Linked DNA regions of Homo sapiens: regions 2 and 3 are each linked to region 1. Evidence: fine-mapped expression QTL. A gene starts in region 1. Each other region holds a variant in brackets. All regions are shown on one strand. Distances are between the middles of the regions.

Evidence for each region. PIP is the estimated chance that this variant, and not a neighbour inherited with it, causes the effect.
Region 2: its variant is fine-mapped to the expression of ATP5F1E in lung (TOPMed, PIP 0.97).
Region 3: its variant is fine-mapped to the expression of ATP5F1E in whole blood (Lepik 2017, PIP 0.95).

The regions. Positions count from the first base shown.
Region 1 is chr20:59,028,352-59,036,703 of GRCh38, forward strand. ATP5F1E (ATP synthase F1 subunit epsilon) reads right to left here and starts at 3,984. Exons shown (of 3, transcript NM_006886.4): 1 at 3,869-3,984; 2 at 1,952-2,078; 3 at 1-490. The coding sequence starts at 3,900. The coding sequence ends at 1,955. It overlaps PRELID3B (PRELI domain containing 3B), which reads right to left. Exons shown (of 6, transcript NM_016045.3): 4 at 8,339-8,352; 5 at 8,120-8,222; 6 at 4,794-6,775. The coding sequence ends at 6,656. SLMO2-ATP5E (SLMO2-ATP5E readthrough) reads right to left here. Exons shown (of 6, transcript NR_037930.1): 2 at 8,339-8,352; 3 at 8,120-8,222; 4 at 6,621-6,775; 5 at 1,952-2,078; 6 at 327-490. RefSeq lists enhancers at 463-993, 3,778-3,917 and a silencer at 3,938-4,227.
Region 2 is chr20:59,369,538-59,377,889 of GRCh38, forward strand. No RefSeq gene overlaps it. Among named protein-coding and RNA genes, the nearest start is that of EDN3, 73 kb to the left of the region's middle. RefSeq lists an enhancer at 6,327-6,828. The variant G/A (reference allele first, on the strand shown) is at 4,181.
Region 3 is chr20:59,812,664-59,821,015 of GRCh38, forward strand. All of the region lies in intron 8 of PHACTR3 (phosphatase and actin regulator 3), which reads left to right. Among named protein-coding and RNA genes, the nearest start is that of SYCP2, 120 kb to the right of the region's middle. The variant G/A (reference allele first, on the strand shown) is at 3,409.

The DNA of each region.
Region 1 (8,352 bases):
TTAGTATTTCTTCTTCTAATCTACACTTTTAGTATTTAATAATTATTTCCATTTGTTACTGATAACCATGTCATTATTCTGACATGACAACAATTCAAAAATAAGGGACTACGAAGCCTCAATGACAGCAGATAATTTTGATCACCAATTAATGTCATGAAACAACTATTTTGAGACATTTTCAAAATGCTTTCTGTATCCCTTTGGTCACTAAATATTAAATCTGGCTTCCCCTGCTTTTAAGAAACCCTGGTTCACATGGCCATAATCATGCAGCTGTGCAGACAGTTCCTTTAAAGAAAATGAAAAAGTCTCACAAACTAAAATCAAGAGTAACAGTGAACCATATTTCAATTTATTGACATTGTCAATTTATGAACAAGACAGGATTTTTTTTTTTCCCATGGAATGAGATCCTTTTCAATCTGCCATAACATGTGCCCACACATCTTCACCTTGGAAATGTAGCATTTCAAGCTTTAGTCAGGGTCTAGGAGGAAAAAGAAAATGCAAGTTGCTGGCTAGTTCTCTGTGTTTTCTTAAAAACTCAACATGAATATAAGAAATAACTTCCTTATAGTGAACTGTATAACTGTGGCTATCATTCACATTGCCGTGGCTCAGATGTAAAAAGTGCTGGTTCAAGTACACAGGCTTAGTCAAGCAGGCATTTTCCTGCTGAGTAAAAGTAAACACTCTCCCAGAATAAAGAAACTACTTTGCCTTTAAAAGACACTAACATCTCCTTGTGCTAATGAGGTGGGGTCTGTAACCCTGAAGGGCATAACAGAGAGGGGCTAATGCTTTGTTTAAGGGGATCGGACACTACTTCCTGACCCCCAGGACTTTGCAAAATCTCAGCATTAGATGCAGTCTGGCAGCTCTGAGCCGAGTGAGGCTAAATGATTTTCTGTTAGCTTACTGTTAAAACAAAACAACCCAACATAAAACCAGGTCTCATTACTCAGAATTATGAGATTAGACAGAGAGCCCCTAGAAAAAGGGCTAAATTCAAAACACTGCATCTCCAGACTTGTAATAAAATATTTACTAATTCAAAATGAAAATGAAAAGTGCTTAGGGGAGACAGTTCCAATAAGTAAAATTGCTCATAACCATAAGCTGCCAAAGGATTAATATTTATCACATTTCTGTGCTATTATGGGTCTGAAGCTTTTTAAAAGCAAAACAAGAAAAATTAAATCTGAAAAACATCTCTCTGATAATTTGCCTTGCCTACTTTTGAAATAACAATGTCAAGAAAGTACTTTAGAGATCAAACCACTTTTATAATGTGGAACACAAAAGTCTACACTTATCAACTGTACAGACCTTTTTATTTCACGAGAATTTAACTTTACATCACCAACATCTTTGGAAAAGTAAAATGAACCAAACCCTCTGAAAGCATAATAAATTAGCAAAACAGTATTCGCTGCGGGGTCTTGCAGATTTTATTGCTTGATACAACAGCAGGACCCTTGCCTGTGCCTGTAGTTATTATGTTCGGGAAGTAGTGATTTGTGAGAACATTAGTGGTTGTGGGGGAAATAAAAATGTAAAGAACTGTAGTTTTTCATGCTCTTGGACTGTTATGTAACTCCAATTGCAATTATACAAGTGGGGAGTTCATCCTCCAAATTATTTGATTTGTGCAGACAAATGAAACAGGTTTAATTCAAATACGATGGCTCTCTACCTAAGCATTGCTAAATGAACTGAAAATCAATGTGCCAATTACTTCTGCTTGTCAGGGCCCAAGAAGACTTTCTTTTTATTAGGCCAGGGGACTTCTATAACCTGCATGCTTTAAATTATACCATCCCAATAACTAACTTCCAAATACACTGACTAAAAAATGAATAGAACCCAAAACTAAAATTATTTTGATCTTTATGGTGCTCCAAAAACTTAAGATGCAACTGTTCTTCTAAATAAATCCATAACTTACAGATTATTCCTTCTTTACTTTCACAATTTTTACGTTGCTGCCAGAAGTCTTCTCAGCATTTGCTTTGAATTCTGTCTTCAGTGCATCTCTCACTGCTTTTGCACAGATCTGGGAGTATCGGATGTAGCTGGGAGAAAATGAGAGAAGGTATATGGTTAATTATCAATATTCCAGCCAGACAGCTGTTACTGTGTTTTCGCTTTTCTTCCTGTACTTTTTATTTTGGTTTGGTTGTACCTTATTGTAGAATTGGATTTAAAAATATGACTAATGCCAAAAAGTATCTATACAAAGAAAAAGAACTAGAAAAAAATGTACCAAAGTATTAACTGGTGTTTGGATGGATGATCTTTGATTTTTCTTCTTTGTACTGTGTTTTCTCTTTAGTGTATATTAATTCAAAATGAAAGATGCATAAATGTTTTTAAAAATCCCACAGCATAGAAAAAAAGAGACTGAAATGTTTAGAGACTATAACATGAATCATGAATTCTCTCCTCGATTTCTCTCCTTAAAACTTTAATTATATTATTCTTGGAAAATGAGGTATACATAAGAGAAAACTATTTTGAATTAAAACAATTCGTTCTAAATTATTTAAACTCTTCTCTGAGAATACTGAATTCTGTCTCACAAGTCTGCCACTGAAAATAACCTCCTAATGAAGATTTCTAAATCAAACTGAAAAGTGCTTAGAGAACATCATCAATTCTAGCAAAACTGTAAAACCTGCTTCCTGTTTGGTAGATGGACTCCCATCAACACTGTAGTTTCCAAAAGATGTCAGATCACCTTTCCCACTTTTGAAAAACAGGAAGCGGGGAGGGGTGCTATTTTCTCATGTTTTAGAATTTATTTTGGGGACTCAGAGGTATGAGTTCCAATGCCTGCTTCCATTCTTACTAACTGGGTGACCTTCAGGCTGTTCAACCTTTTCAGCACGTTTACTCACTCACCTGAAAAAAACAACAGAATAAAAGGACAATAATACCTGTCCTGCTGATAGCTGGGAGGAGGAAAAACAAGTGTGAAAAAGTATGGATCACAGGGTAGGTTGCCTAATAAACGGTATCTACTACTGGGACTATCATCCTTCCATCCTTCCAATTCTACAAGACTTCGCTGGCTTGACCTCAGCAAGTCGGGAAGCTCCGCTGTAGTGTACCCACAAAATGTAAAGTGCTACACCATCCAGTCAACTAACAAGGTGTGTCACCTAGAGCAAGGTACTTCTGCTCACTCAGGTGCACGGGTAAAAAAAAATCGGATGTGACAGCTAGACCAATGGTTTGCGGTTCCACTATGAGACACCATGTCCTCAAGTGGGTTCCATATTTGAGCTTTCCAGGAGCCACCTCTCATCTTTGTGAGGGGCTCTCGACAGTTATGGCTTTCACCCCTTTTAGACATAAGGAAACCTGAAATCAACAGGACTTAAAAGTTTAAAAAAAAAATGTGTAAAGTTGTAAAAGGCTCCACCTCGATGCTGGATTAAAGGTCAAAGCTGCTAACGGCGGTCACGTGGAGAGAAATCTCCTGTTTCCCGAGGTGGATGTGACTGTACTACTTTCACCACCTGGCTCCAGCACCATTCTAGAAGAAAAAGGTTTGCTAAATAAGAGCTGGCCTCTCTCTCGAGAAACCTGCCATTCACAAAGGTGTCCAGGGGCACTCTGTGGGTGCTGGGCCGCACCGTCGGGAAGCGAGGCAGGACACAGACGCGCTCCCACGCGAGGTCGAGGCCGCGCCCGCCTGAGCGCTTTGCCCACAGCGACGCCATCTTGGCGGCGACGCCCGAGGCTTGGCCCAACCCCGGTCACGCGTGGGGCCGCTGCTCTGTGTCCTGCATGACCTCTGGGCACCGGGATGCGCGCGGGCCGGCTCGCGAAGCCCTTCCCTCTGGAGGCCTGGGCCTACCTGAGTCCAGCCTGTCTCCAGTAGGCCACCATGCTGTAGCGAAAGCGGAGCTCGTCGGGCCGAATCGCCAAGACGCCGGCAATGTCGGCTCAGCCGGGCGGTTCAGCCGCAGGAAGATCAGACCACAGAAGCGGAAGAGGCGGGGCGTGCGGACCTGCCAATCACCGCCTCCTACCCGGCCCCGCCCCTGAGCACGGCCCCTGCTGCCCTGCCGCGGAAGCCCCCCGGCGCCGGGAGCCAATGGGCGCGCGCGGTCTGGACTGCGGGTGCCAATCCCGGGGCGGGCCGGCCGGCCGCGCCCACCTATTGGCTCCAAGAGCTCCCGGGGCGTGTGTCCCCCGACCTTCCGTATTACCCCGGCGGGGACGACGGGGGCAAGAAGGCCGGGGTGTCCCCGCTCGCTAAGGACCACTGAGCCGCGTGCTTTCGGGAAGCGAGGACGCGAGGCGGCGCGGGCACGGCCGCCCCGAGGGCCTGGCTTTGCGCCCGCTTCAGGGAAACGGCGCCGGCTTTTTTAAATCTGTGGACAGACAAGCGTGTCCTGAGAGCTGAGATTTAGAAAGGCTCTTAGGGCACCCCCTTTCTCGGAGTGACACTAAACCCTGGAAACCCAGTGGAGGACCCCCTAGCGTTTTCTGTAGTTCTAGGACCTGCTTCCGATGTGCGACAAGACGGAGGGTAAGGCAACAGTTGTCACTGTTGCCCGGAATGGATGGGAAGAAAAATGTGAGGAAAACCCACTGGAGGCACAGGGAACTGCCAGGCGGCCGGGAAAATGCTCATCTCAGAGCCTGTGATTTAGAGAAACTAACCCAACGCAGTGAAGGCTCACAGTCTAGGAATTAAAGTGTTTCTCTCATAAAGAAAAAAAAGCCTTTGCCCTTCACCTTTAATTACTAAAAAGAAATTATAATCAGGAAAAACATCACTTAAAAGAAAGTTTTTATTAACAAAAGTTTTCCTTAATTCACATTTCAACTTTATTAAATAGTCCAAGGGTTTCATTTATGAACACTTATTCCAGTTTAGTTCTCTTAAATTCATTTGCTTGTTGTGCATTTATGTTTAAAAAGGTAACTAACTGCACTGGAAAATGAAAATTTATAGTTTTATCAATAGGTCAGTTTTTAAAAAATCAAAGGATAAGGATTTAAAAATATTAGGGCATTACACCTTTTTCAGAACAAGGATAATTTACAGAAATTATACAAAGCAGATTTTCATCAAATATCAATTATTTAGCGATGTTTTATTTAGCTGAAATGTTATTTCACTTGTAAAAACTATCTCCGGTTACAAAAAAAAATCAGAAACCTTATTAAATTTAACCTGCTTTTACAAATGTCCTAAGAAGTCTTAAGCTAAACAAAATTTAAGTAGGAAAACGATAATTTAAAAATAGTGTGTTATACTATTTCTGTGGTTTATGTACATATATTAACTGGTCTCTTGGATAGGAAACATGACTAGAAGTTTATCACACTAAGCACTGTAAAATAAAGGCAAGAGCTAATCATCTTCTAGCAAAAATAGTCTCTATGCAACAATTGCAAATGTCAAAGCTATTATTTAGTAGTTAATTGCCTGCTACAATACATAAAACAAAGTACATTTACTGGATTGTTTTTCAGTTTGCAGCTGCCCTCTTGACATCCCAAATAAGGAATTCCCGTTAAGTAAAACCTGCAGTGCAATTCACTCAGTGGTTAGTTTCAGGCCAAGCCTCCCCCTACCATTATGCTTGTTCTTCCCCACCGCCCCCAAATCCTGCAGTGGCACCATATTATTAAAAACACTAAGTACCTGGGATTTATGCCTCAGAGCAAGACATCATTTGAGTAATTTCAAATGATACACAGCTCCTTCATGTAAAAAAGATGTTTTGTGGTCACAATTACTTCAAAAAGTAATTATATTCAAATAACCTGACATATCATGCCTTAGCAATTACAAAACCATGATTTTGACACATGGCAATTTTTAAGTTAGGCAAATGTAAAATGCTAAAAGATGTGAACAGCTGTTCTTCTGTTTAAGTTAGAGCACTGCAAAACTCAGGTAATGACTTTATTTTTTTCAGTTAACATAACCAGCCCACGATACAGCATACTAAATCACAAAGTACAAATCCAAGGAAGTTAATACCTTTACTAAGTTACAAAACTTGGGCAAATCAATACAGTACTCTTTTATAATGAAACCATACTTTTGTTGGAGTCATGTTACTTTAGTGATAATTTTCACTCCAAAAATATTTAAGTACCAAATCAAAACACTGGTTTTTAATGGTGGTTTATAGCATAGTAAGGTATTTTACACAAAATATATTTTAAAACTACACAATTTCTCCTTTTAAGTGAGCTCCCTTGTGCAAGCTGCTGAAGTGTACAGCAGCAGGGCAATGGGCGTCTATAGGAGGTGGCTCTGCTCTGTTCTGGGGTTGGTCCAAAGTCAGGTGGAGTTCCAATGTATGAAAAGCTTGAAAAATCTACCTTAAGGAGACTGAATATCAATACCAGTTTCCAAGGAGTTCTTGTTGAATTTTCACAGAAATACTGGAACCCTCAAAATCAGATAGTAATTTCAAACAACATTAATTTCAGATGATCCCTTTTATTTAGAGGCCCTGCATCTGTTTTGATCAAGTCACATAGCCTTACACCAACTTATCAAAAAAAAAAAAAAAAAAACTACCCAAAATATAGTTGTATTTTTAAAATAACAAATAAATATATAGTCAGTTTGGAGAGACCTGGAGTACCCGATGTTGTCTACCAACTGTCACGATCACTTCTCTGCAAACGCTGCTGCTGCCATTGGAGTCCTTATGGTTCCTCTTGCTGAGGCTGTCAGTTCTTCAATCTCAGCATTTAATTTATGTATTACCCATTCCATTGCTTCTCGGCCCTTAAAAAAAATCCAATACATTTATTGTTACTGAGGGAGAGCAAAGGCATATATCGAACTAATGACACACCAGGAAGTAACAAGGGGCGTGACAAGTTTAACTCAATCTCAGGATGACAGATCGTTTTTGTCCTGGCTTTTTCTAATGTTATTTAGCAAACATCAAATGCCTTGAGCAACTGGCTTGATCCATAAACTGACTTTTACTTTGTATGCAAAAGATGTTCTCAAATGAATCTACAATTAAATGACAGAATGTCTTATTTGTTTCATGATTATAGTGGTCCCCTTTTTAGGGGCAAGAAGGTCAAATCCCTTTTCTTTACATTTTAAACCAAAATCCTGTGCAAGGTCCTGCAGGATCTGGTCCTCAACTCACTCCTCACCCCTTCTCTCCTAGTGTTCTATATAGTTCCTTGAAAAACAGAGCATTCCCTACTTCCTGTCTCAGGGCCTTTGCACACGCAGCTCCTCCACCTAGAACACTCTTCTTGGAATACCCCTCGCAATCCACCTGCCCCCATTTGGCAGTCAGCAGAAACATCAGTTACTGAACACTCAATAAGCACTCTCATACCTTTCTGTACCTTTTCTTTCCTAATTACATGCTGTATGATTAATGTCACCTGCCTCTTAGTTCCACGGGGGCAGGGACCACATTTGTTTTGCTCCCTGCTGTATACCCTGTCTAGCCTAGCACTCTGCATGGCACAGAGAAGGCATCCATGAGTATCTCTTGATAACCACATTCACCATGTGTTATGTAACAGTGCATGGCATCTTTCTCTAAACTTACTGTTTCAGATCATGCATTCTCAATAAGCAAAAATTGGTTCTTGGGGGGATGGAAAAAATCTCCCTCTTTTATGTATAAAGCCCACACATATGTATATGATATATGACTTAATGGAGGTGGCAATTAGGGAAAAAATGTCTAAAACGAGTTGTGGGGGAGACAACAGTGAAAAAAGGTTGAGAAACAGTGCCTTAAATGACACGCAGCTACACATCATCGAGCACTTCCTCAGTGCTGGGCCTCAGGCTACACACTTTCCATATGTTATCTCATTCACTCCACGCCAACCCTGTAAAACGGGTAATCTCCACTTTAAAAACGGGAAACTGAGGCATAGAAAGGTTAACTTAGTTGCCCAAGGTTAAAAGGCTAAAAGTTAGAGCTTGGATGTGAACCCAGAGCCTTTGTAAGTAACTGCCCAACGTGCTGCAGTTTCCTATGGTAGAATGGGCAAGGGTCAGCTTACAAGGACACACATGCAGTCAGCACCCCATTCCATTCCCAGGAAATGAACCAGGGAATAATAACCAAGAAGCAGCCTCACTTACTTTACTAGCATTTGAGGATATCGTACTTGCCATCAGTCCTTCAAGGTAACTGCTGAGGCTAACTCCTTTCACGGTAATTATGGCTTCTTGTGTCAAAACAGTTCTGGAACAAAACATATTCACACAGGTTCAGATGACCCAGCTTTCATTTTCAAAAAACTTGATAAAAAAACCTTAAACACCCTTTACGATACATTTGTTAAAATATTTTTTACTCACTTTTCTGGATCCTG
Region 2 (8,352 bases), 340 kb after region 1:
ACAGAGGTCTTCCAGTGTTATCCTTTCATCTTTGTGGTAAAAAGTATGAGATGCAATAATTTGTTTTTTATTTGGAGAGGATGTGCTGTTATGCCCCCAGATGACTGGACCACTCTACTGGACCACTGTACTGACATGGCTGGACCTTTGTAGAGGTCAGGCTCTCCCATCCTTTGGAACACATGTGCCTTCCCAAGAGTTCCAACTTGCCGTTTCTTGCTCATCCAGTCCAATTAGCATGATATGTCAGATATCACGGAACCAATGTGATGTTCAGTGGAATATCCCTATAATCCAGGTTCCTTCAGAAGGACAGAGAACAGGAGAATTAATATAGTGCTCAGGCAAGACTGTAAATGTACCCTGTTGTCCATGCCAAGTGAATGACAAACTATTTTTGATCTTCCTTCTTGATGGGGATGAATGCATTCAACAAATTAATGACTACATCTCCCTCTGATCCTCTTGCTTAATATAATATGTACTGTTTCAATTTGGCAATGCCCAGCAGTAAAATTTGAAACTGGGTTCCCAGGTGAAATAAGACTTCTTGAGCCTAAGCTATAGTGTCCCTTGAAACTCTTCCAGAGCTCTGCATTGGGAGGTATTAGACGCTTGCCCAGGTAATAATAAAGTTTGCCTCATCCTCATTTTAATGGTATTCTTTGTATGTGTAGGTCCCCTTCAGGAGCCTTGCTGGGAAGGGGTAGTGGGGCCAAGCTGGGATATGGATAGACCATGGCTATTATGCCATCAAAACCGCATTCAAATTAATGAAAATTTTGCACAAATCTAATAGTCACCCTACTTCTCATCAACTTGCTACTGAGAGCCTTTCATGTACTTAGAGATACAAGGCAAGGGACTGGCCATTTAGCTGGGGAGTATAAACAGTGCATGACACAGGCTTTCCAAGGAGGCAGGGCAAAGTAGACCGGAGAGTCCTGAAGCTTCCCTGGAGGGAGAGTGACTTAGGCGAGGAGAGAGCCTGGCCACCCCTGACAAGGAGTCAGGAACGGTAATGCCTTATTTAAAGAATCATGCCTAATCTATAATAAGTAATATAATAACTGACAACAATAATAAATGTGACATTTATTGACAAGTACACAAAACCCATTGGTGTCTATTATAAATTTCACCCTCAAAACAACCCTTCATTCATTCAGTAATACAACAATTATTTTTCAGACACTGAGGGTACGATGGTAAGCAAAATGATACGATTTCTGCCTTCATATGGCTCCCCATTCAAGGGAGCATGTGGGGACAGAGAATAAAGTCAGCCAATAAATAAACATGATAATTTCAGATAGCAGCTAGTGCTATGAAGAGAATAGAACAAGAGAATAAACAAGATGATGCGGCTGAGGGGTACTTGCCTGGATGGGGGGTGCTTCAGATGGGAGGTTAACGAAGCCTCCCCAAGGGAGTGACAGTTGTGTTGGGACTAGAGCAACATACAGTTCGTGCAGAAGCATGTTGCTGGAGGAGGAACAAATGCAAGGGCCTTGAGGCAAGCATGCTCTGGGATGTTTGAGGAGGCCAGGGGAGGCCCCTGTGGCTACAGCACAGCCTATAAGAAAGGTGGCTGGGAACACTGATGCTCAGATCATGTCTGGGGATAGACAATCCGACTCCCAATTCAGGATGAGTCTTCGACACTCAAGAAGGAGAAAGGAAGGCCGGGCCACACTGAATACATGTCCAAGAGTCAATTAGTCCCTGTGTTTAAAGATCATAACCTCTCTTGCTCCCACATTCACACCAGGAGGAAGCGGTGACACATGCTGTCCCTTGTCCTGGAGGAGACCCTGCACCACCAGTCCTGTGTCTGCGACTCCCAGAACCGGATGGCCCAGGCGCTGTGTCCACGTAGCCCTTCGTGTATTGTATTGGGCCTCTTCAGTCACTGCTAGATTTTCCAGTATTGACCAACAGAATCTTCCCATTGGCTCGTTTCTTGGAAGAATGAGAAAGAGATGGGAAGAGGGGGAGAGAGCCTAGCTCCCCACATGCAGGTCTCTTTCCTTCCTCTCTCCCTGACCTCTTCCATGCGTGCTTCCGATATCCCCATGTTGAGAAGACAAACCACAGATAAAGTAGCCTCTCCTGGCCCACAGCCAGGGGCGTGGGTGCCTCCGTCCTGTGTGTGCAGACAGCTGAACAACCAGATTGTGACCTTGGCCTGGACTTCCTCAGCTGGCTGGAGATGAACTTGTTTTCAGAACTGTGAAACTTGACATCCTTTATCCCGATACCTTCAACTCCCAAGTTTGCTTGGCCAAAACAAGCCATATCTGCTTAATCTTTGGGGCTCTTTCTCATGGAAAAGGAGGCTGCTGCTTTGGCCATTTCCAAAGGCCCAGTGTCCACAGAGCCTTTCAGCACCACAGTCACCCCTTTGGACCCCAGGGGGGAGTATCCTGCTGTCATTTCAGTCACATTTTTAGACAATGAAACTAGATGGTGAGGAAGGGCCACTCTGTGCTGGCGCTCAGGCGAATTCAGGAGGGGAGCAGCCTGCGTCACTGCCCCAGGGACTGCTGGTTAGCCCAGGACTGGAGACCCATTACATTCCCAATTAGAGGCTCTGCCACTGAGCAGGTGCCTTCAGCTTCAACCCAGAGAGGAGCCCTGCTCTGCCCTGGAGGGGCCTAAGAAGCTTACATTATTTACAGTCACAGTTCACCTTTTATTGTTGATGTTGGTGCTTCCATTTGGTGTCAGAAATTTGCACGTTAAGGACTTTCTAAAGTGGGGGTTTTCTTTGGGCATGGGGTTGTGGGGAGCTACTGCCTCGTGCCCCCAATTTCACTGGGTCCCACTTTCCTTACAGCCTTCTCTCATCCTCTTCTTCCATGCATTTTAATTTAAGTTTGTATTTAGGGTCAGCATTTTGAAAGAAGAGTTAGCATCATTTTTAATTTTTAGCATCACGAATCTAATTTACTTGTTCCATGAGTTAATAGTGTTGGCTGCTTGAAGAGCACATGCCTTCTCTGTGAATTCGGCAGCTCCATCTGGGGTGATGGCGAGGGATGAGACCACTTTGCTGGGCCAGCCAGGGCCGGCCTGGGCTGGGCTGTGGCTCATTCAGGCTTTGGTTTAAGATTGAAGTTGGGGCTAGAGCTGAAGACGCCACCAAGGTCTGAGGTAGAGCCACACTTGGCCTCTATTACATGGCAGGGTTATTCCCATTCACAGGGTGGCACCCTTCTGCTCTGTCGGCTTTCCCAAGCACATGGATTTTTAAAAATATCAAGAAAGGAAAATAATAACAACCTATGGTACTGACAAAGTAGGAGGAGGGTGTTGAATTAGAGGCAAAGAAGGAGACCCAGAACTTCAGAAACCCAAGCACCTGCTAGAAACTTCATGGCGTCAGGACAAACAGAATGATTCCAGAGCCATCTGTCTCTACCCTCCCCCCATCCTCCTACTTGACACTTTAGGAGCCTTACTTGAGTGATAAGGATATTTTACCACAGCATTTTTACTTGGGCAACATACTTTATTGTTTAGTTCCAGGGAGAAAAATGGTCGATAGATTGATGAAGGCAAAATGACCTTGTTGTTGAGCAAAACCCTCCAGATCTCATCACCTTCAGTAGCACTGCCTTCACCTAAATGCTAGTGACCTTATTGTAATTGATTTACACAGGCTCTCCCCAGTGTGTTTGCATTGCATGTGGCATTTGACATTTCACAACTTGGCCTCTCAAAACTGGGATCCAGGATCAGCATGCACACTTCCAAAGCAGACAGTAAACATTCGTTAGAGCTTGCTCTTGAGCTGACATGGTGAGATCATACACAGCATCCTTAGTTGATGGAGTAAAAATGCTAATCAGGAAGAGTGTATGCCCCAGGAGACTCATAAAACAGGTTGCCAATAGGGTATGAATCAATCAGTCAATCAATCCATATTATTAAGCATTCTGTGGCCCCATTCCATCCTTCTCCCCAAATCAGTTCAGCTCTGGGAACTCAAATTCAGGAGCAGATTTCAAAAACGTTGAGAATCAACCAGGTGTTATGAGATGAGCTCACATCAAATGGTAAACAGTTCAAGGAATTGTACTATGGAAGGAGGCAGACAGAGCTTGGACAGAGACATGAGTAGAGATTTCTGGAGAAAAGCAGATGGAGGATTTGCATAGTTGGAGGGAAGTGGGCC[G/A]GCGGGCAATGACGATGGAGGCGACATGCTGAGTGGTTGCCTGGCTCAACCACTCTTCACTGTTTGAGCTTCACGGGTTCTACTCAGCCACTCTGGAGCCTCACCATTCTCCCTGCATGATGGAGCTAGTGACCCCATCTCTCAGGGCTACAGCGAGGTTCTAACAGGCAAAAGAGGTGAGACTTCTTTGTGAATTTTTCAGGAAAGAGGAGGAGATGCCTCCTCCTCCTCCTTGGGGGTTGGGGGCAGGAGTGGGGCTCACTCCTGTAATCCCAGTACTTAGGGAACCAGAGGTGGGAGGATCACTTGAGTCCAGGAGTTCAAGACCAGCTTGGGCAACCCCCAAGCTGGCAAGACCCCATTTTCAGGAAGAAAAAAAAAGTGTTGTGGGGTAGGAGTTGTGGTGGGGTAGGGGGCAGAACAAGCAAACTTTCAGTGATGGGAATGGGCAGCAAGGTCAAGACCAACTCCAACAAACTCCACAGAGGTGTTTGTGTTCTGGCTCTGGAGGGCTCAGCCCCTGCTAGGGCACAGCCAGCACATCCAGCTTCTTGAGCAATTAAGCCATTTCATCAATCACCTGAGAGCTGTTCCTTACACCAGACTACCAGGCAGGCTCCAGGGTACCTTTTGCCCCCATAAACAAAATTCCATCACTGATAACACAGACTCTCCTCTGCCTCGATATATTGCTCCAACAGGAATTCCAAGGCTGAGAAATGGCATGTATAACTTTCTCCTTATTAGGCAATAAAACATCCAGAAGTGTGAATGTATACAGAACAATTCCATGCATGTCAACCACATCTTCAGAATAGCTCTAAACTATTCTCAGCTTCCTTTTTCCTGCAAATGGTTTAAAGGATGCACTTTTTAAGTCCATACACTTGAAAGATAGAAGGACCCTGCCAGTGGGGTCTTTGCATGCAGAGGGAATACAATTGAAATTTCAGAGACATTGATAAAGAAGCTGGGTAAAAATCTGGCCTTGGGAAATGTGAAGTTCTTTCCCCACTTTTTTGTTTGTTTGAGGTATATTTACATTCAATAGAATACTCAAATTATAAGTTTACGGTTTTATAAATTCTATGTATATACTCATGTAATCACCATCCCAATCAAGATGTGTGGTGTTTTATCACTCCAGAAAGTTCCCTTGTCCCCTCCTCCTCCAGGTGATATCACACCACCTCAACCCTGGCTACTCAGAGGCAAACAATATTCTGATTTCTTTACTACAGGTTAATTTTGCCTGTTCTAGAACTTCATATGGGTGGGATGATGCAGATGTACTCGTTCATGCCTGGGTCTGTCACTCCACCTAAGGCTCTAAGAATCATCTGTGTTGTATTAGCAAGTGGTTATGTCTTCCTTTCTCCCACCCACCTGCCCTTTTTCTCTCCCCTTCCCTTCCCTTCTCTTCTTCCATTCTTCCCTTCCCTTCTTTTCCCTTCCATCCTTCTTTCCTTCTTTCCTTCTCTCTCTTTCTTCCCTTCTTTCTTTTGTTCTTTCTTTCTTTCCTTTCTCTCTTTCTTTTCTTTCTGCAGAATCTCAGTCTGCTGCCCAGGCTGGAGTGCAGTAGCACAATCATGGCTCACTGCAGCCTCAACCTCCTGGATTCAAGTGATCCTCCTGCCTCATCCTCCTGAATAGCTGGGACCACAACAGCTGTGCAGCACCATGCCCAGCTAATTAAAAAAAATTTTTTTTAGAGATGGGGTCTCACTATGTTGCCCAGGCTGGTCTCAAACTCCTGGGCTCAAGCAATCTTTCTACCTCAGCCTCCCAAAGTGATGGGATTACAGGTGTGACCCATTGTGCTTGGCCTGTTATTTTTTTTCTCGCTAGCATTTTATTGTATGAACATCCCTGAATCTGTTTACCATCCTGCTATTGAGGAATATGTGGGTTGTTCGCAGTTTGAGGCTGCTATGAATTAAACCATCAGGAATTTGTGCATATGTTCTGATTTCTCTTGGATAAACTCCTAGGAGTGGAATTGCTGGGCTGCACAATGATTACTGTATAGATTTTATTAAAAACAGAAAGCTCCAACGTGGTTGTGCCATTTCCCATGACTCTCAGCAGCTTCTGAGAGTTCCTGTTGCTCCAGATCCTTGCCAAGGCTTGGTTTCAATGGTCTTTTTAATTCTTGTCATTCTTATGTGAATGTAATGGTGTGGCATTGTGGTTTAATTTATGAAACAAAGGATAGTATTGTATTATGATTAAGCTTGGTTGCTTTCACCTGGGATACTCTATGGACAAAGTCAAAAAACAGCTGGTGGCTCCATGAGTTGGGATGAGTGGGGAGCTGCTAGCAGGGGTCTCAGTACACACAGCAGAGGTCACCTTAGAAAGAGAAGTGCCGCCAGGGAGGGCAGGGCCATGTGCCACTCAGAATAGCCCTCGTGGGAAGTCCTAGCCCCTCAAAGCCCTCAGTTTCTGGATTAAGCAGTCCGGTTAGGGATCAAGCAAGGACAAGGGGAGGTAGCAGGTCCTCTGTTCTCCAGGTTGACTCCTTTGTCTCCATTGAACCACGTGTCAGGATTGCAAAGGCCTTGCCTCACAGGGCCCACAGCCAAGCCCCACAGCTGACTCCCAAGGGCCTGGAGTCTCCATTCAGGTGTGTGTTGCAGGGATCTGCTCAGGCAAGTCGGCTGGGCCAGGCCACTTGCTGCTGGCTAAGATGGCCACCACCTGGCAAGAAGAGCCTCAGCCGGGCATGGGGAAAGGTTATAGTGATTGATGCAAGATCGATTTATTTCCCCACTGCCCAGTGCAAGGTCAATCCTGATAGACAGCCCTGAGCCACAGGGGGGCCACCCCTCGACCTCAATATCTCACTCCTTAAAAATCCCAAAGCGCAGGGAAAGGTCAGCTTGCTGGTCTTGGCCTCGTTCACAGCAGCTCCCTGGCACGCTGCCAGAGCTCTGCAAATCATGTCGTGGGTTCCTTTTGCCCCCTGCCTGTTTCTTACTCTCTCAGGCTCCCATGAGGGACATTTCAAGCCAACTCACTCATAATACATTTTAGAATGATGAGGAGGGTGACAATAGTGATGGCGATGATGATGACCATTTCTCGATTGCTTGCACAATGCTAGACTGACTCCATCATTTAAGTATCACAGCCACCAAGTTTGAAATCAGATCTCCAAACTACAGTGGAGAAGTGGAGCTAGTAGCTGAGAAACTTGCCTAAGATCACATTGAACATTGTCTGCAAAGGAGATCAGGGGAGCATTCTGTGAATGTCCTCAGTGATGGACGGCCTGGACGCGAGATGAAACGGGCAGAACAGTGAAGACATAACAAACAATCCTGGAGTGTGGTCGAGAAGTCACCAGGAGAGCTCTAAGTCCAGCAAAGAGGAGCAGGAAGCGTCTGTGGAGCAGCTGAGACCATGTGCTTCCTGGAACAGATGAGGCCTTGCAATCCTCAGATCTGCTTCTGACCTTTAAAAGTAAAACCATGTCAGACACCTCAGCTGTCTGAGTGTACTCACATGTAGGCAAAGAAAATCACCCCCGGCTGCTTCCACAAGGGCAGCTGGCAAAGCAACCACCATTCCCTGTGTGCTGTCCAAGACCCAAGCCTCCTGCACACTGAACTCTCGGCAGCTTCGTGAGACCAGGATTCTCCCTATTTGACAGATGAAGAAACCGAGACTTGGTCACCAGTAGGCATGAAGTGGTAGAGTTGGCCCTCAAGCCAGGCCTGTCTGATTTTGAAGGCCATGATCAACTTGGCATGCTATATTATGCCATGTCAATGTGTGAATAAATGTGTTACGTGAGATGTGCAAGCATATGCTAACAGCTTCAAAAAATAGCAAAAGAGAGACACCAAAATCCATTTCTATCCTTTCCTGGTTCTCCCGTCCCCCTTCTCAGAGACAATAGATAATAATCTTTTGAACATCATTCTAGGGATATTCCATTCATACACATATTCTATGCATAATTTTGCATAATGACCCTCTTACTCTTTATGCAAATAAGTACATATAATGTGCATTTTTTTTTCTGTACCTTGCTTTTCTCAATTAACAGGGTGTTTGACAAACAGTTCAGCATGAGTGCAGATGGACTTGACTCATTCTCAGTGATGTCCTGTAGCTTTGTATGGGTGAACCCCAATTTACAGAGCCATTACCCTTTTACTCTGCAT
Region 3 (8,352 bases), 780 kb after region 1:
TTTACCTGAAACTGCATGGACGGAAATTTTCACTTCCACAGAAATGGTGTTTGGTAAATTTCAGACACGTGGAAGCGGGGGAGGAATCAGCTTCCAATGCCAGCCTTCATAATGACACCACTAATAGCATCTGAGAGGGTCTGCCGTGACGCTGGGCAGGTGCAGTGCTGATTGCCTGTGATGCCGAGCAGGGACCATCATCCCTGCTCTGCAGATGAGGAGACTGGGCAGAGAGGCTAAGCAGTGTCCCTGGGTCTCACAGTTCATGAATGGCCAGGCTGTGGGCTCCAGGGCCCTCGCTCCCAGCCACTGAGCCTTGCTGCCTGAGGCCAAGCATCCGGCTCACACCTTGTGGACAGGGCCGGGAAGCTGATGATACACTATAGCTAAAGGCCAGTTTCCGGTGAATGTTTGTGTTAATGAGGTGGTTATGGTCCACGTTCACTGGGCTGAGTCCTTTGCCCGCTGATGTCTGCAACCCTGAAGTTCTGTGCTCGGTATGGTGTGGGTGCTGCACACAGGCTCCTTCATGGATCTTACTACCTTCCCCAAGACCCTCACTGAGGAGCGAACACACCTGACATGGGTCACTCCCGGAGCAGGGCTGAGCTGCCGCAAGCGCTGACGGTTTCTCTTGTCACAGTTATCATTGCCGCCCTGAAAAGGCTGCAAAGTTTGCCTTCTGCCTCAGGGTTAATCCATGGCTGCTGGGATGGAAGGTAGCATTTGAAATTACCTACAGGGGGAGGCTGCACCTGCAGAACGGGCCCAGTTGATCCTGTCACATCCAATGTCATTGCCCATCTCTTGGGGTGCTTACCCCCCAATTACAGAGATTTCGAATTCATGTAGCGTGCACGTGCTAGGCGCTGGGGTGCAGAGATGAAAAGATGCACTCACAGGTGATAAATTATTGTGTCTGGTGAAAGATGTACAGAGATAGATGTGTGGACCAGCTTCAGGAGGGAGGGTGAGGGTGTCCCAGGCAGACCAGCCAGTGAGAGCTCGAAGGTGGGAAGCAGCACCGCCTTCCCAGGACTACCCTGGGGGCTGAGAAGGTTCAGGGCTGGGTGAGGGTGGCAGGGCAGAGGGAGAAGACTGGAGGGGCCATGGGTCCAGGTGGTGGAGGCTCCTGTGCTGCCCGCTATGGGTTCCCAATCCACACAGACCTCCTCTTGTCATTCTGGGCTCAGCTCAGATGTCACCTTCCTGACCATCTCCCAGTGGCACAGCCTCGCCATTACCCTGTGTCACATCGTCCCCTGCTGTGTTTTTAGCCACTTCCACAGCTGCTGAAAGTGCCGTTTACTCATCTGTTCTGTTCGCCTCTTCAGGGTGTGCCCACTGGCGTGGCGGGGCCCTGCTCTGCTCTTCTGTGAGGGCCTTGCCCACCAAGGAGGCGCTGGCTAAGCTGGTGGGAAATGGCAGATGAGGAGGCCTGGCTCTCCCGAGAAGCAGCCAGGGCTCCCTGGGGGTCAGGAGCGAGGGCATGTCTGGGAAACGCCCCTCTGCTGCAGTGCAGGGCTGGTTTGGGAGAGCAAGGCTAGAGCTGGGTGGGGAGACAAGGGTTTCTCACATGCTACAGGCCCAGGAGCCAGCACCATCCTGGGGACGCGGGGCTGCAGAGAGGACGGCAGAGCTGGTGAGGATGAACGGCAGGCCTGTGGCTGAGGGAGGAGGGCCTGCCAGCCTAGGGGTGGGTGGATCTGCAATGGTGGAGAGGGAATCCAGGAAGAAGGCAGGCAGACACAGGGGAAAGGTTATATGTCCAAAGGGTCCCTATGCCGTCAGGTGCCTGGGGTTTTTGGCAGTGCTTCCATCCACTTGTGCAGGTGAGACTGCCCAAGGAGCACAGGGACTGGAACGGGAGACTGCCCGGTCCATGCTGGACTTGCTGATCTCAGCTGAGGTCGAGGGTATTCAGAGCCCGTCGTGGTGTTTTATACGGTCCTGTACTTCCTGTTATCCTTGGTCCATTTTCTTCTACACTATCTTCCCTCCAGTTTCACACACTTGGACAGAAGGGAGTGGTTGTTTTTCACTGACCGCCAGGAACCACAACAGGCTTCTGTGTGTTCCAGTGAAATAAGCCCTATCTGTCTCTCGGGAATGGAGCAGTGTTAAGCTTTTTTTAAAAGCACAATCTGAAGACACTGGGGTCTGGAAACCCATTTTTTCTTGTTCTGAAGCCTGTGGGGCCTCCGCGGTTGGGCCTTGCTGAATAATTTGGGGTTTTAGGTTGGGTACATCAAGGGTAAAGGGCTTCTGTTTGGATCAAACAGGAGGTGGGGGGAGGGTGAGATTCCCTCATATTGCTGAGAAGGGAGTTGGGGGCTGAGTTCCCCGACTTCAGAGGTGAGACATCTCACAAGCCAGACCTTGGGACTGTCCCTGTGGACCCAGGCTGGACTGGGAAGTTCAGGGAACCCTCGACTCGAAGAGGGTTCTTGTTAATGAACAGTCTTCAAGGAGCAAAGCCCAGACTGTTCTCCCAGTGTGGTGTACACATGAGGAGGGACCTCATCGGGGGGAATTTGGCTTCCTGATATTCAAAAGCACATTTGTCTGCTCAGTCTCTGAAATTGCCAGTGGGACAATTTCCAAAGGGATCACCAGAAAGAAGGTAAATGCAGAGACGAACAAGGAACTCATCATACCCAGGATCGTTCTTGATCAAAATGCCAACAGCTGGGCATCTTCAGCCAAAAGAAATGCAGTTGTGGCAGGAAAGACTCAGCTGTACTTGGGGTTCTGGTTTTTTTTTTTTTGTTTTTTTTTTTGAGATGGACTCTCACTCTGTCTCCAGGCTGGAGTGCAGTGGCGTGATCTCGGCTCACTGTAACCTCTGCCTTCTGGGTTCAAGCGATTCTCCTGCCTCAGCCTCCCAATTAGCTGGGATTACAGGTGTGCACCACCATGCCCAGCTAACTTTTGTATTTTTAGTAGAAACAGTGTTTCACCATGTTGGCCAGGATGGTCTTGATCTCTTGACCTCATGATCCGCCTGCCTTGGCCTCCCAAAGTGCTGGGATTGCAGGCGTAAGCCACCACGCCTGGCTTGGGTTTCCTGTTTTATAGTGAACCCCAAGGTTGCAAAACAGGCGATGAGGCTTGTGATCATTTATCTTTATGGATCATGGGTCTGCGAACTGGATGAGAGTTTTAAGCATGTCAGGTGTGCAAACATCTCCTATGGTTGTGGGAATTTCTCCTTGCATAGCCACCATTGTCTAGAGCAGCAGTCCCCATCCATTTTTGTACCAGGAACCAGTTTCATGGAAGACAGTTTTTCCATGGACCAGGGAGGAGGATGGTTTTGGGATGATTCAAGCACATTACCTTTATTGTACAGTTTATCTCTATTATTATTACATTGTAATATATAATGAAGTTATTATACAACTCACT[G/A]TAATATAGAATCAGTGGGAGCCCTGAGCTTGTTTTCCTGCAACTAGATGGTCCCATCTGGAGGTGATGGGAAACAGGGATGGATCATCAGGCATTAGATTCTCATAAGAAGTGTGCAACCCAGATCCCTCATATGCGTAGTTCACAATCTGCTGAGAATCGAATGCTGCTGCTGATCTGACAGGAGGTGGAGCTAAGGCAGTAATGCTTGCTCGCCACTACTCACCTCCTGCTGTGTGGCCAGGTTCCTAATAGGCTAGGTTGCCCCAGATGGGTACTGGGGTTGGGACCCCTGTTCTAGAGCAGTCTGCACGCTGGGGACTCTGGGTCCATGACAGTATTTCCTTCCTGTGTGATAGGCCTCACAGCCTCCACTTTGCATGTGAGGAAATGGAGGCTCAGAATTGTTAGTAGCCAGTGAGTAGCTGAGTGAGGACATGAACCTGAGTCTTTCCAGCTCAAAGTCCTTTTCCTTAGCCTATTTCACAACTCCCTGGAACTCATCCATGGCCATCCTCTGGTTCAAATTATCCTCCACCTAGGCAGTAGACTTTCCTTTAAGGAAGGAAGAAACTTCTTCAATGTTTTATCCTCAGTGCCTGGTACACAGTAGGCTCCCAGCTAATTACTGTTGAATGGATGGTTGGTTAGATGGATAGATGGATGATTGTATGATTGGATAGGTGGGTGGTTGGGTAGTTAGATGGATGGCCATCTGGATGGTGGGATGATTGAACAGGTTAATGGCTGCTGGGGTAATTGCATTATAAGATGCATGAGTATAGGTAGATGGAGAGACAGCTGGATGAATAGGTAGATGGGTGGATAAGTGGTGGGATGTTGTGTAGTTAGATGGATGAGGAGGTGAATGGAGACATTGTTGAACTAAATGGCATCCTATTCACTGTGCTTGATGTACCCTAATATCTGTCCATCCATCCATGCAACTGTCTCAGCACGCACAGTGGGTTAGATGGAATTTCCTAAGAGTTTATTTCAATAAAATAAGAGTTTAGTTCAGTACAATAAGTGTTTATTGAATGAATATCTCTCTTTGCATAGTGGGCTCTTTGGATACATTTAAGCAATGATTCCATTTACTACATTGATTATAACCAACCTATTCAGAAGTGTATTTGTGAATAGTGTGAGCCCTCAGGACCTCAGTGGCCATTGCCAATTTTGGAGACTGGTTCTGTGCTGTCTCCAGGCCAGGGTCTGCATACGCTTCTGGCGACACCACTGCCGTCTGGCTGCTGACCAGCCTGGGCTATTTCTGAGCTGCAGGTCCTTAGGCCCTCAGGTGAGGATACTCCAGAAGCCTCCACTTCACCCTCACTGGAAGGAAGTCTCTGGTGGAAACAAGCTACTCCTAAAGCTTTCTGAGCACTTGTCAGGAGGAATAGGAGAGAAAGCTTTATCGGAATGAGTAAGACCAATAGTATTAACCCATGACTCGCCACAGGAGGCGGGTGGGGGATGGTGTCTTCACAGCTCATTCAACAGAGTAGAAGTCACAGACCCAAATGCTCCATAAGTGACCTGGGCCAGGCAGGGCTGTGGCATCCTGGGGAGTGTGCACTCTTGCTCAAGAGGGCAGCTGTCACTCAGATCCTGTGGGCCATCACCCCTGGCCACATGTCAGGCCATTGTGGCCAGAATTTCCAAGAGAAACCGAAGATTTGATTTTTTTGGTGAAATAGCCTTCATGTAAATGTTGAGAGCCTCTTCCTATTTTTAAAAGCAATGTGTGCACCCAGAAAACATATTTGTGGACCAGATTTGGCCCGGGACCACCCACTGGCCACCTCTGATGTGAAGTCACTTATGCACTTGTATTGGGAGAAGTACATGTTTCTTTACACTGAGGTTAAGGGGATTTTCAACTCTTGAGTTAGCAGGGAAAATAAATGGGTCATCCTGTAAAGTGACTGTCAGCAGCGGAAGCCTCCAGGGCTACCACTGTCAGTATCCTAGGGAGCCTCAGCGAACCTGTCTCCTTCCTCGCATATGTGAGGGGGCCCTTGTGTGCGGCCCTCTCAGCTCCACCCTTGCTCTAAGGAAGCCGCACAGTGCACCGCTGAGAAGTCAGGATGGACAGAATGCCTCGGTTCCCAGCCAGCTCTGCAGTTTTCCAGCATGTGGGCATGGGGAAGTCACCTCCTGACATGCGCCTTACTTTCCTCCTCTGTAAAAGGGATGTGACTACAACAGAGCCTGTCTTTTGGGGCCACGGGAAGGATGCAATGAGCCGTCACACGTAGAATGCCTGGAATCATGCCTGGCAGAGAGGAAGCTCTCCAGGAAGAAAAGGAAGAAATCTGAGTTCCATGAGGATAGGGAATTTGTCTCTTTCAGTTTTAACAGCTTTGTTGAGACATAATTCACACACCACATGCTTCACGCACTTTAAGTGTCCAATTCAGGGCTTCCAACATACTCATAGAGTTGTATTTCCATCAGCACAATCGATTTTAAGATATTTTCCTCACTCCAAAAAGAAGCCTCTCCCTCTCAGCTGTATCTCCAGTCCCTAGAATGGTACTGAGTCCTGTGGGTACTCGGTGATTTTGCAGCTACTGCTGCAGGGACGAAGGGGAAACTGCATGGGAAGGCATCTCCTAAACATGACCAGTTATTGGTGTCACCATTCCCTTTGCTTCACCAACTTGATCTTCTTCAGATCCTTTTCTTCTGCTTCGGCATCTTTTCATTGTCATCATTTTATCTTCATCACTATCATCACCTTCACTGCTTGTTTATCATCATCTTTGTCATTTTCATCTTTTTCTTCCTCATTATCTTTCCATCATCTTTAGCAACAACTTTGTCAACATTTTTATCCTCATCATCATTTTCATCATTTCCATAATCACGAATTTGCCCCATCTTTGCTCCCTAGGAGACACTCGGGGAACTTGGGCTCTCAATCCCCTTGACGTCTGGGGGCTTGGCCTATGAAGGGAATGAAGCCCACATCTAAAGCAGGTTCCGGAGCCTCTGCTGAGTCTGATCGTGCCTGGAGTGAAGAGGACTCTTGAGAATGGTGGGGGCTGGGCGCAGTGGCTCATTCCCGCAATCCCAGAACTTTGGGAAGCCGAGGCAGGAGAATCGCTTGAGTCCAGGATCACTTGCTGTGTTGCCCAGGCTGGTCACCAGACCTGGGTGCCCACAGGCAGATAAGAGGAAGGTGCCTGAGTCACCAACTGCCCACGGGACTGAGGCACCTCCCTCTTATCTTCCTGCTATTTTCCAGATCAGCCTGGGCAACACAGCCAGACTCCATCTCTACAAAAAATAGAAATTTAAAAACAGCTAGGCATGGTGGTGCACACCTGTGATCTCAGCTACTTGGGAGGCTCAGGAGGGAGAGAGGATGGCTTGAGCCTAGGAGTTAGAGGCTGCAGTGAACTATGATGGTGCCATTGCACTCCAGCCCGGGCAACAGATTGAGACCCTGTCGTTAAAAAAAAAAAAAAAAAGAAAACAAAATGGTGGGAAGGTGAGTCTGAGCCGGGACCCTGCAGATCCCACAGGTCCAGCTCAGGTTGCCACCCCCGTGTGTGGCCTGGTTGGGCCGGTGCTGTCCCAGTACTGGCCACCCGTCAACTGAGGCACCTGGTTGGGCCAGTGCTGTCCCAGTACTGGCCACCCGTCAACTGAGGCACCTGATTGGGCCGGTGCTGTCCCGGTACTGGCCACCCGTCAGCTGAGGCACCTGGCTGGGCCGGTGCTGTCCCGGTACTGGCCACCCATCAACTGAGGCACCTGGTTGGGCCGGTGCTGTACCGGTACTGGCCACACGTCAGCTGAGGCATGCAGGGCTCTGCCATCTATAGCCTTCTTTGGATTCCGAGATCCCAAGAACAGAAGCTGTTGGCATTTAGCAATTTATGATTTTCTTCCTTTTTTTGATGCTGCAGATTTATCCGACTGACTTTCCCAGCCCTCCAGGGGGACCGTTGCTGGGGCTTCCGGTCTCTCTTTGTTTAGAAATCTCAGGGCAAGTGGAGATCAGGTCTGTTCTGCACAGATGCACCTTCCTGAGCTCTTGGCGTGGCACCACCTCCTGCTTCACCACTGTGGTGAGGGGTCTGCCTGTGAACACTGCAGAGCCTCCAAGGTCAAGAAGACCACCAAGATTTATGAGGGCACTTTCAAGGATTTGTTGCAAAAATGCGAAGGAGCTCACGAGGCAGTGCTGTGAGCAGGCTCTGTGTGGTATTGTGGGCAGAAATCAACCTCAGCCCTAAAGGGAGGGGCCTGGTAGTCCTGCAAAGGCCGGGGCAGGCAAGGCCAGCACGGATCAGGCAAAATGGTGGCTATCATGTATGGATCTTGTACGTTCTGCTTTTAGATGGAGGTAGCTAAGCAACAGAACACACAGCTTCCAAATTGGGACAAGTTTAAACTGGCAAATCTCAGCCCCAGAGGATATAAATATGACGCTTCATCGTCTTGGGTGGAAGTCCCCGTGTACAGGGAGGGAAAGCCCATCTGTGTGTGGCATGCAGGGTACAGGGAGTGGGTCCCGAGTCCCATCCTGTGCAGGGGAGAGGCTCAGGCCCCTTCTGTGCAGTGTCAATATGAAGTGGCCCTGTCCCTGCTGAGGGCTCCAGGGAGGGTCAGCTGCTGTTTGTTTTCCTTGGTTGCTTGGGAATCTGTAGAGGATGGTACAGCATGTTTTGTAAGAAAATGCAAAACAACATCAACCCCCATTCAGTGTCAATAAAACATGATTCCCAAACCAGGGAGCAGGTGGTTTGGTGGACTTGGAGGCTGCCTGGCTGAGAGCCATGGGCTGAGTGAGCCCAGGGAAGTCACATGGTGAGTCCAAGCCTTGAAATGGGTGTGTGATGTCTGCCTGCTCAGATGCTTGCAGGGACTAAATACCACACAGTCCTGCTTCACCCAGGATCGGGGCTTAGCGTGTGTGAGTAGTAG